Linked DNA regions of Homo sapiens: region 1 is linked to region 2. A link means that fine-mapping ties the variant in region 2 to the expression of a gene that starts in the linked region. Tissue or cell type: whole blood. Region 2 holds a variant in brackets; the other region holds the start of a gene. All regions are shown on one strand. Distances are from middle to middle.

Region 1 (5,365 bases), 28 kb after region 2:
AGTGAGGTAATTAAAAAAAAATTTTTTTCTTTTAAATAAATAGAGATGAGGGGGAGTCTCACTGTGTTGCGCAGGTTGGTCTTGAACTCCTGGCCTCAAGCAATCCTCACACCTCGGCTTCCCAAAGTGCTGGGATTACAGGTGTGAGCCACCACACCCGGCCCAGTGAGATAATATTATCTCCATTTTATAGCTGAGGAAACCAAAGGGGGAAGTGACTTGTCCAAGGCCACGCAGTCCAAGAGTAACCCACATCTTCCTGTTGGCTATGATGCCCATACACGTTCTTTTTCCAGATGGAACCAAAAGAGAAAGTGGCAGGCTTTCAGGGATAAAGAGGCCCAGCTGGCCTGGTCCAAGGACTGGGGAAGTTTCCAGGTGGAGGGCATTGGGGCAATGTTCTGGCAGGGTCTGAAAGGGCGGGGAGGGGGCTGCATGGTTATAAGAGGCAGGAGCTGACAGGCGCCTGGACTCCAGTTATCTGTCTGCATTCTTTATTCTTTCCCTTTTGAATGAGGCTCTGCGACAGATTGTCAGCATCCCCCGGGCCCTGCATCTGAGACGCAAGTGAGGTTATGAAGAAGGGAAAGAATGGAAGAATGATGGGGCAGGGGACTCTAAGGAAAAAGGATTCATCTTTCTTCATGAATTCTCTCAAGAAATTAAGGGTGCCCCCAACACCAGTCTTCAGGAGGCCCTGCATTCTCCTATTTTTGTCCAGAAAACATTGATTTGTGCTGAGTGCCTCTTCCAGCTTTCCCTTTACAGCCCTGATCCCAGGAGAAGCCAGGTACTGGTCTTTTAAAAGTCTTGAGGCCTGAGAATTTGAAAATGAAACTCAGAAGAACAATGGGAATAATCAGAGGGCAGGGCCCCGTGGCTTGTTCAGCTCTGCCCCGGAAGAGCCTGGCATGCAGGAGGTGTTGGGGAATCAAGTCCCCAGGAATAGTCCTGACCTGCTTTGGAGCCAGCCCCCACTTTGTGAGATTGGACAGAAGCCAGGAGAAATCACTGCCTTCCCCAAGTACATGCTCCTGCCAAGGGGCCCAGGACCACCTGGGGCTCTGCCTGGGACCCTGAGACCCTCCTTGGGTAGCCTGAGAAAAGGCAATGGCTAGGTGGGGTGAAAGGTCAAAAAGTAAAAGCAGGCCCCGGGAAGCTGTGTACCTCAAATATATGGAAATCTGGGTTCCAGACCACACCTGGTTCCTGACAATCCCCACCTGCTGCCGGAAGCACTTTTCCAATCCCAACTTTTAAGTTGGGTTGCTTCAGGAGAGGAAGCCACATACTCCCCTAACATCTAGGACAGATGGGAGCCTAATTTAGAATCGGCAATTTTAGCCAACATTAGGGACATCTAATCCAAACTCTCCTCACCCACAGGAAACTGAGGCCCAAAGTGGGAGGAGAATTTGGCCAGGTCAAAGGTCAGGGGCAGGATCACAAATTCTCAACGCATCCTACTCTTGCTGGCCTTGTCACTTTTGATGGCCGTGGGGGCACCAACATCTACATATTAGTTGCTCTACAATTGCGATTTTCTTTATAAAGAAGTCAAGCCCTTCCTTTGCTTTAGAAACATCAGGTTTGCAAAGGAAGGCTGGGAACAAGCTGAGGCCTTGGCACCGCAAATCCTCCGCCTTATCGGCAAATTAATTCGGGACCCTGGGCGCAGTCAGCCTGGCATTGCAGCTTCTTAATGCCGCAGCAGAAGGCAGCTGGAGCGTCCGTTTTACAGGTGAGGTAGGTGGGCCTCCCTCCTCGCGTTTTCCGCGGTGGAAACTGAGGCTCTGAGAGGACCCAAGTCGTTCCTCCACGGACACCTGGAACCCATGGGCGGGGGCTGCCAGGGACCCAGGCGGGACCAGCTAGGTCTTGGGCTGCCCCCGGCCCAGAGGGCTCTTGGCGGGCAGGAGCCGCCCCCACGCCCGACCCCACTAAACAGGTCACCGAGAGGAGACCGGGTCCTCGCCCGCGGACCTCCCGGGCCGCAAGAGGCGCGATTCTGGAGTTGGAGGCTCCAGGGAACTCCAGAAATCCCAGAGAGATTCCGGGCCACCAACTCCCCCAGAAAGTTGGCTCGCGTCCACCCCCAAGACGGCCCTGAGGCGCAGGCCAAGATGGCACTGGGCGGGTGGCGCGCGGCGCCCAGCGGCCGCAGAGGAGAACCCCGTGCGACCCTGCCGCGAGGTGGGGGTCTTCGCGATCCCTACCCGGCGCGCGCCAGCCTCGACGCCGCCGCACGCGGGTGGGCACGCGCGCGCCCGGCCCCGCCCCCAGCGCCCCGCCCCCGCCGCGCGCCCCGCCCCGCCGCGCGCCCTCCCGCCCGCCCGCGCGCCGCGGCCCGGAGCCTCCCCATTGGCCGCGCGCCGTCACCTGACGCTCTGTTATTTCCTGTGTGTTGGGAGAATGGAGAGAAAAAACCCCGAGCCCAGCCGCTTTCGGCCCCTGCGAGGCGGCCGCGGCCTCCGCCAGGGGAGCCCGCCCTGAGGCGCGCCTGACCGGGGAGCGAGCGCGCGGGCCGGAGCGAGCCTCGAGGGGCCGCGGCCCCGGCCCGCCCCGCCGCCGGCCCGGGCGCCCGAGCTGGAGGCGGCGGAGCCACCCCCACCCCCACCCCGCGCAGCGCCGCCCGCCGTCGCCACCGCTCCCTCCCCGCCCGCCCCCGGCGGAGGCCGAGGGACTGGGCGGGGGGCTCCTGCAGGTAACCGCCTCCCGGGCCTGAGGGGCAGGGAGAGGGTTGGGCCTGAAGGACTGGGGCCGGGCCGGGGTGTCCGGCCTCGGGGGCTGGGAGCAGAGGTCCCGGCCGGACCCAACCTGGGAGTGCGGAGCCTCCTGGACTCCGAGTCAGGGCTTGGGGTGCTGAGGGGAGTGTTGCTGCCCGGCCCGACCCAAGAGTGCGGGCAGGGGCCCGGGCCAGGCCTGGCATCAGAGGGCTAAGGTGTCTTGGGCCGGCCCGGGGTTCCGGCGGGGCTTGGGTGCCGGTGCTGGCCCGAGGGTGCGGAGGGAAGGTCTACCTGCTGGTCGCGCGAGGCCTTGGGTGCAAAGGCGGCGGGTGTGAGCGGGCGGCGTCCGGGAGTCAGCGCCGCCTGCTTCGGGGCCCCTGGCAGCCCCGGGGGCACCGGCCGCGCTCGCCTCTTGGCTACGGGCTGGAGGCGAGGCCAGCGGGGCTGGGCCGGGATGTGGGCGGGAGGGCGCCGCGCTGGGGCGCCCAGGAGAGCAGGGGCCCGTTTACTGCCATGTGAACACCTGAAGCCATGTGGACGCGGCTGCTTCTCGCCTGTTGGGGGCGGAGGGCAGGTACCGGCGGGTTGGGCGCAAGGTCCCGGCGCAGGACACACTTCCTGTGTGGGGCGGCCTCTCCTCCCGCGCCGCGGGGAACAGGGCGGGGTGTGCAAGCCGGGGTCTCTGGGCGAGGGAGCGCTCGTTTGGGGACCTGAGGCTTTCGTCCCTTTTTCGGGGGAAAGTGGTGGTTTGAAGGAGCGTGGCCAATCGGGCCGATCCCTCTCAGGCTACGGCGGGAGGTGCACTGTCCTCTGGACGCCGGAATGGGAGTGGAATTTAGTGAGTTGGGGGGCGGTGCCGAGGAGCGGCCGTCTTCCTCTGCTTGTGGGTGGGATTATTGTCTGTTTTTGTGGTTGCGGATACCAATACGGTCTGCTGGTCTGTATTCAATCCTTTAGTTTGACCTTAGGGGTCAGGTCAAAATTAGGATTTCCCCCTTTTCCTTTTTGCTTTTTTTTCCTCGAAGATTAGATGTCTCTGGTAACTGCTGTAAAATGGATGGAATTTTCGAGCTATTATCTAACAGGCTGATCTTTGAATGATAATTGGACCCTTATGTTAACAGCCTCAGTGAAGAGTGAAGAGTTTTATACAGCATCTTCCGTGGGGTGGCAGTTAGGTGGATGGGGAAGCTACACTGAATTCCGACCTGGGAGACCAGGAATCTGCTTACAGCTTTGACGCCAAATAAACTGCAGCCCAGGGCAAGTTACTTTCCCTGGTAATTTTCTCATCTGTTAAGTGAGGACTCCCGGGTCAGACGGTACAGGGGTTTGTGGTTTTGCTTTTTTATCTCTCATTTTGTGCTCTGTTTTAGCCATAGGCAACTTTTCTGAGAAATGCAGACTGTACCTTAGCTGGCTTTTAAAAGCCTGTCTTTAAGCTTCCAGCCTCTGCCTTCAACAGAGCATAAAAGTTGGTCAGGGTACGCTCTTTTTTGAAATCCCACTTGCTGTTCTGTGCTTCAGATCAGAAAGTGTATTATTCTGACCTAGGTGGAATGCACCTTAACATATTTTTTGTCTTTGTGAAAGAAGTTATCAGAAAATGTTTCAGAGAATATTTGTCTACTTGGAAAATGTGTGGATAACATGTGATTGGGTCTGTGTATGTTGGCTCAGAGGAGTTCCAAGATCTTTCTACGCAGGGGATTTTGGAGGATCCAGATTTTATTAAAGTTCTTCAAAGGACATTTGACATTTGGCTAACTGTTGAAATTTCCAGCCAGTTTCAGCATTCTCAGAGTAGGGGGATGAAGTAGAATGCCATAACATCTCCTGTGAAATGGTATGCTAGTGGAATTAACTGTCACCTCAGGGTGCACTGATTATCTGCATCCCCAACTTTCTCCTTACTGGTAGCCAGTGCTCCGCAGATGCTGAAGAACCGCAATTAGTTTCACTGATTTTATGGTGTGTGAAGGCCTTAGGCTGTGCTTTTGACTGGTAAGTATTTCTATACCAACCTCAGAATTTGTCTTAAATTTCTAGAACTGTGCTGCTGGGCCGGATATGAGCCCAATATGTTACAATATGTCTTTCTCAGATCACTTTTTATTTTTATATATTATTTAATTTTTAAAATTAAATCCCCTTTTATTTACTTATTTATTTTGACACAGTGTTGTTCTGTTGTCCAGGCTGGAGTGCAGTGGCACGATCTCAGCTCACTGCAGCCTCTACCTCCCAGTTTCAGGTGATTCTCCTGCGTCAGCCTCCCGAGTAGCTGGGATTAGAGGCATACACTACCACACCCGGCTAATTTTTGTATTTTAAGTAGAGACAACATTTCGCCATGTTAGCCAGGCTGGTCTTGAACTCCTGACCTCAGGTGATCCGCCTGCCTTGACTTCCCAAAGTGCTGGGATTACAGGTGTGAACCACTGCGCCTGGGCTAGATCACTTTTTGATTCAGTCTCTTTGAACAGTTTCCAAAAGGATCCCAGCATAGGGGCAGAGTGCTTATAATTATTGACTTCGGAGACAGTTTGGTAGTAATTTTCTTGTATGTTACCATCAGGCCTATCACACAAGTAAACACTTTTTTGTTTGTTTTTTTGAGACAGAGTCTCTCTCTGTTG
Region 2 (5,365 bases):
GGGCTGCTGACCGCAGGAGGCTTCAGGCATGGGAGTCCTGAGACCCCAAGTCTTAGCCCGCACCCCTTGAGCACTCACTGTGTGTGTCCCTGAACAAGTGCCTTTCCCTTCCTGGGCCTCAGTGCCCCCTGGGAAACAAAAGCGTTGCTGCCCACCATCAGAAGTGGGAGGTGACCGAGGTTCTGGGCCCCAGTCAGGACATGCTCTATTTGGCCCATGTGGCGCTTTTTTTCTTTTTTTTTTTAGTTTGAGCCAAAATTAAAACAGGGAAGTTTTCACATACAAATCTAGATTTCTGGCTTCTGTTGATATCTGGGCTGGCCCAGCCACGAGCTCTCACCGGCAGGAGTAGCTGGGTGGTCTTCACTCTTGGCCACCTGCCCAGCCTCCTAGCAGAGGCCCCAAAGCCCTGCCGCTCTCCTTGGGGGAACAGGTTTCAAAACCTGCCTCCCCTTACCCTGCCTTGAGATAAAACCGCATTCCCCTAACCCCCTGATATTCCAGACAATCTGCCTCGTTTTAAAATTCCTTCAGCAGCCCCAGGCCCAGCGGCTTCTACCAGCGAAGGAACGAAGGAACGAAAGGAACCAGGCTGCACGTGACTGCTTTGCGGCTGGGGAAGGCTTTGATGTTGCGGGTGATTTCAGCGCGCCCCTCCCCCTCCCCCTCCCCGCCCTTCCTTCCCCTCCTCTCCTTTCTTCCTCTGCTCCCTTTCCCCCTCCTCCTCCACCCGCTCCAAGCTTCCCTTCTACCCCTTTCTGTCTTTTCCCTCCTCCCTCCTCCCCTCCGCTTCCTTCTCCCCCTTCTCTCTTCCCCTCCCCCATCCCCACCACTTCCTCCTCCTCTGCTATTCTCTCTTACCGACCCCACTCCAGGTACCTGCTAATTGCACTTCCCTCCTGCTATTAATTACCTGACCTAGAGAGACCCCAGCCAGGTCACTCCTAGGAGGTCTTGAAGTGTTGGGGTGCGGGCAGGGGGGCCTGCGTTCGGGGAGAGGTACAGAGGTTGGAGAGCTGCTAGCTGGGACAGAAAGGCAAGAGGGACTGGTGACCAGTGGGACATGTGATTCCCCTCCACCCCCATTCCAGTTCCTCGGGGTTCCTGGGTGACCCACCACTGCCAGCATGTTCTGTTCATGAGGCCTTGAGGCCCCTTTGTCCTGGGGGAAATTGAGGCCCCAGGGCATTGGAGGTTGGCTAGGAGTGGGGAGGGGAGATGGGAGAGAGAGTCCATGGGGAGGGAGAGCAAGGTAAGGACTGTGTGAGAGGCAGATGGAGAGAGTGCCAGAGCAGGGGGCTGGATGTGGGGAGAGGGGCTGGGAAGGACCCTCAGTTCCTGCACCCCCAGCCAGACATGGCCTCACCTCCTTGCCGCCGTCCTCCCTGTGATTGTCCTCTGGGCTCACTGGTTGCTCTTGCTGTCTGCCTACCGCCCCCTTGCCCCCATCCTCCCGTGCCTTCTAAAGGCCAGAGAAGCCTGCAGGGCCAAGTCCAGATTTTTGGGGGTACCCCTCCAGGTCTCCGTTCCCCTCCACAGCAGGGGTCTGGGCAGGCGGTGGGTGTGGGAACCCTTGGAGCCCACCCATCACTGCCATGGTTATTCTCTGTTTCAGTTGGTCCACAGCTTCTAAGGCTGAGGACACACCAGTGGGTGCCTCCTCTGTGCTGGCCGTGGTGCCCGGCCCCTCCCTGCCCTGGGCCCTCTCGTCCTCCCCCGACTTGAGGCAGGGATGGCTCCTGGAGGCCGGGGCATTGGGCACGCTGGTTCTGGACTGTCCTGGGGAAGGCCTGGTGGGGAGGGGACTGCCTGCTGCTCTGGCCTCCAGGCTCTGGCCCATCCCTGCTGTGGTTTCTTTGGTCAAATTTGTCATCTAGGTGGGTGTCCCCACAAAAGGCAAGTGCAGAGATAGATGAAATTAGGGCAAACTTGCGACCATGCCAGCTGGTAGGCCTACTATGTGCCCAGCTATCCACAGGGGATGTGAGAGTGTTGCCTGTCCCACTGCCCCCTCCCCCAGCACCATCCGTGCAAAGATGAAGAGCCCAGGCTCAGGGAAGTGCCGAGACTTGACAGCAGGGCTGGGACCCAGGCCTTCTGCTTCGGGGTTCTGGGCAGGATGGTCTTCAGTGATAGCCAAGGAGGCTTCGGCCCTGGAGTCACCACCCCGGCATGTGCCTTGTTTTCCTCCTTGAAACCATAGTGACACTACTCCTGTCTCCCTAGAATAACTTCTCAGCAGCAGCTGCTGTCGCCTTCCACACCCAATGGGTGCCCCAACAACAGTCGGCCCTTTGGGTCAATCGCCCATGTGCCCACCTTCACCTACCCTCTCTCCAGGAGCACCTCCGCTGATGTCAAACCCTGCCTGTCCTCACTCATCCCCTGCTCCATCTCAGTTCTTGGATGAGTCGCTGGA[A/G]GCTGAGCCTTGGCTCTGGCTGAGGGCTCAGCCCTCCTCCGGGCTAGGGAATCTGGTGATAGGAGCACCAGGGCCCTGGGATTTGTGCCCTGATCAGCTGTGTGACTTTGGGCAAGTCACTGGCCCTCTCAGGACATGTGAGAAATGGAGACAGTGGTGATGCCTTCTCTCCCATGGGTTTGCTTTGAGTCTATTGAGAAGACAGATGCTGAAAAGCCCCACCACTTTGTACAGATGTGAGCAGCTGGGCTGAGCGGTCACCTTTGCACCCCCAGGCCCAGCCCTGAAACCAGCACATGTTCATCCTTGCCTGCTCTGCATGGGTGCCAGAGAGGAGCCCTGCTGTGAACCCTCCATGTGTTCCTTCCACCCTGGGTCTCATCTCCTCACCATCAGCCAGGAATGCTGGGCCCTGCCTGACAGGGGCCCCAGCTGGTGGGGGGATGCGACCCGAGGCCTTCTGTTGTGGTTTGTGGGGCAAGAGGGGAGTCCACACACATTTGTCTGAATTGTGTGGCTCAAGATTCTCTCTGGCCAGTATTTCCTAAGTCTGCCTGGTCTGGGTTGGGAGAAGAGGTTATGAAGGGGAAGCTCCTGGGGGCTGAGCTCGAGGCTCAGGGATCATGGGCTTTCATGGCTGACCCTGTGAACTGCCCCTCCCCAGTGTCTGGCCCCTCCAGCCCAGCCATGGGGCTCACCCAGCTGTGCCCTTGGAGGGTGCTCAGGAGGCAGTGGGGGATGGGAGAAGGTTGGGAGGGGCTCTGATGAGTTCTTGTTGCTGGTAAAAAGAAGGCACAACCAGTGTCCTTAGATTTACCGTCTAATGCAAATGAGGACCCACTCCTCATTCTTGCCGCTCCATGAATATGACCAACCCTTAAGCCAGCTAGGGAGTCTGACCTCTGCTCAGGCCTGGCAGGGGACAGGAAGTAGCTCCTCACCTGTTTTTCTTTTTTCAGCCCCCTGGTCAGTTCTACAGCGTAGCCCTCTCTGATCATGCCCATTTTCCAGATGGGCAGCCTCCTTGCCCAAGGTCGCCCAGCTGGGCCATCCATTGTGGGTATGGGCACTGAGGCCTGCCTGAACCAGTAGTGCATAGGGGTTGGGACACAGGTTCTGGGGCCCAAGTTTAAACTGACTTCTCCAGTTTGCTGTGTGGTTCTGGGTGGGTTACTGCACCTCTCTGAACTCAGTTGCCACATCTGTAGAGTGGGTTTAACTATAGCACCTTCCTTTGGAGAGATGTCAGTGCCGGAGTGCATGGAGCACCTGGCATGGAGTGAGTGCTTGCTGAGTGTCAGCTGTAGTTGCTGCTGTTTTTACTGTTATTTGACTTGAAAATCTCCCCCTGCTCCTCGTGCTGCTTTCTCATTCGCGAAAAGCTGAGCTGAATAAATGGCGACGGGGCCTCCTGGGTCCCCCTGCAGCGTGATTACATCCCTGAGCCCTGCTTGGGGCTGGCATCAGCAGGGCCCCCTTGTGGCTCGGGTGGTGAGGAGAAACTTGGCCCTGTCGCACTGCCTGGCTGGAGCCCTGTTTGGGGGTGGGGGTCTCAGCCCTGCCTGGCCTGCCTCCCGGCTGACAGCTCGGGCACTGTGAGCTGGCTGCCAGCCAAGCTGCTTCCTCTCTGGCTGGCTGGCATCCCGGGCCCAATGCCAGGGGGCCGGCTGGTGGGCAGCAGCTCGAACGCCGCAGGGCTGTGATCCCGGCCAGGAGACTCCAGGCAGGGCTGGGTGTTGGGGCCTCCAACTGCCCCTCATGGCCCTTGGGGAGCCGGGCACAGCTGCACTGGCTCTCGGCACCACCCCCAAGTTGGCGCCGTTGCAGGTTTGCAAAGCAGCAGCAAAGAGTGCAGCCAGGGCAGTGGGAGCTGTTCACATCCTCAGGCCTGTCTCACAGGGTCAGACACTGAGCCAGTACTTGCTGAGTGTCCATGTGTCCAGGGCCTGTGCTGGGGGTCAAGGACACAGCATCCCGTTCGCTGAGGCCTGGCTCGGGGAGGCCAGGCTGCTGCTGAAGATGATGATGGTGGTCATGATGGTGATCCTGCACTGCCAAGCACTCACCTGCCAGGCAGGGGTCTAAGTCCTGACACATCTTCACTCGGTAGTCCTCACAAAACTCAGATGGGCTAAGGACTGTTCTTACCCCCATTTTACGGATGAGGAAACAGATCCATCTATAGCTAGAAAACGGGGAAGGCAAGATTGGAACCCCAGCTTGCTGGCTTCAAAGTCCATGCCCTCAGTGATGCCCAGGGTCTTGTGGAGGGCAGCCTGTACCATGTGGGAACTGGTCACGCTGTGTGGAAAGCCTGCCTGGAGGAGGAGGGGATGGGTATATGGGTTGGGGCTGAAGGCTGCACAGGATTTCTGCTGCTGAGGTGGGGAGTTCAAGGAAGGCTTCTCTGAGGAGGTGTCATTTAGGCTTTGGCCTGAAGGACATGAGCTGGTTGTATGAAAACATAAGGGAGTAGGCCGGGCGCGGTGGCTCACGCCTGTAATCCCAACACTTTGGGAGGCTGAGGTGGGTGGATCACTTGAGGTTAGGAGTTCGAGACTAGCCTCAACATGGAGAAACCCTGTCTCTACTAAAAATACAAAATTAGCCGGGCGTGGTGGTGCCTGCCTGTAATCCCAGCTCCTCAGGAGGCTGAGGCAGGAGAATTGCTTGAACCTGGGAGGCGGAGGTTGCAGTGAGCCGAGATTGTGCCATTGCACTCCAGCCCGGGCAACAAGAGCAAAACTCTGTCTCAAAAAAAAAAAAAAAAAAGAAAAGAAAACATAAGGGAGGAGCATCTCAGGGAGGGGGACAGCCAGGGCAGAGGCCCCAAGGCAGCAGCAGGCTTGCCAGGTGGGAAGGACCAGAAGGCAGCCCAGCGGTGGGGAGTGTGGAGTGAATGGGGCTGAAAGGGTAGGGCTGGCTCACAGAGGGTGGGGAGGCTGC

What was found. PIP is the estimated chance that this variant, and not a neighbour inherited with it, causes the effect.
Region 1: TCF20 starts here. The variant in region 2 is fine-mapped to the expression of TCF20 in whole blood (TOPMed, PIP 0.95).

Annotation. Positions count from the first base shown.
Region 1 is chr22:42,267,678-42,273,042 of GRCh38, reverse strand. It overlaps TCF20 (transcription factor 20), which reads left to right and starts at 2,390. Exons shown (of 6, transcript NM_001378418.1): 1 at 2,390-2,704. It also overlaps the pseudogene OGFRP1. RefSeq lists silencers at 2,297-2,456, 2,597-2,746, 2,807-2,866, 3,007-3,246 and an enhancer at 3,577-3,636.
Region 2 is chr22:42,295,269-42,300,633 of GRCh38, reverse strand. It overlaps a transcript of TCF20 not described here. Among named protein-coding and RNA genes, the nearest start is that of TCF20, 27 kb to the right of the region's middle. RefSeq lists enhancers at 1-175, 87-316, 176-854, 2,228-2,873, 5,188-5,365. The variant A/G (reference allele first, on the strand shown) is at 2,420.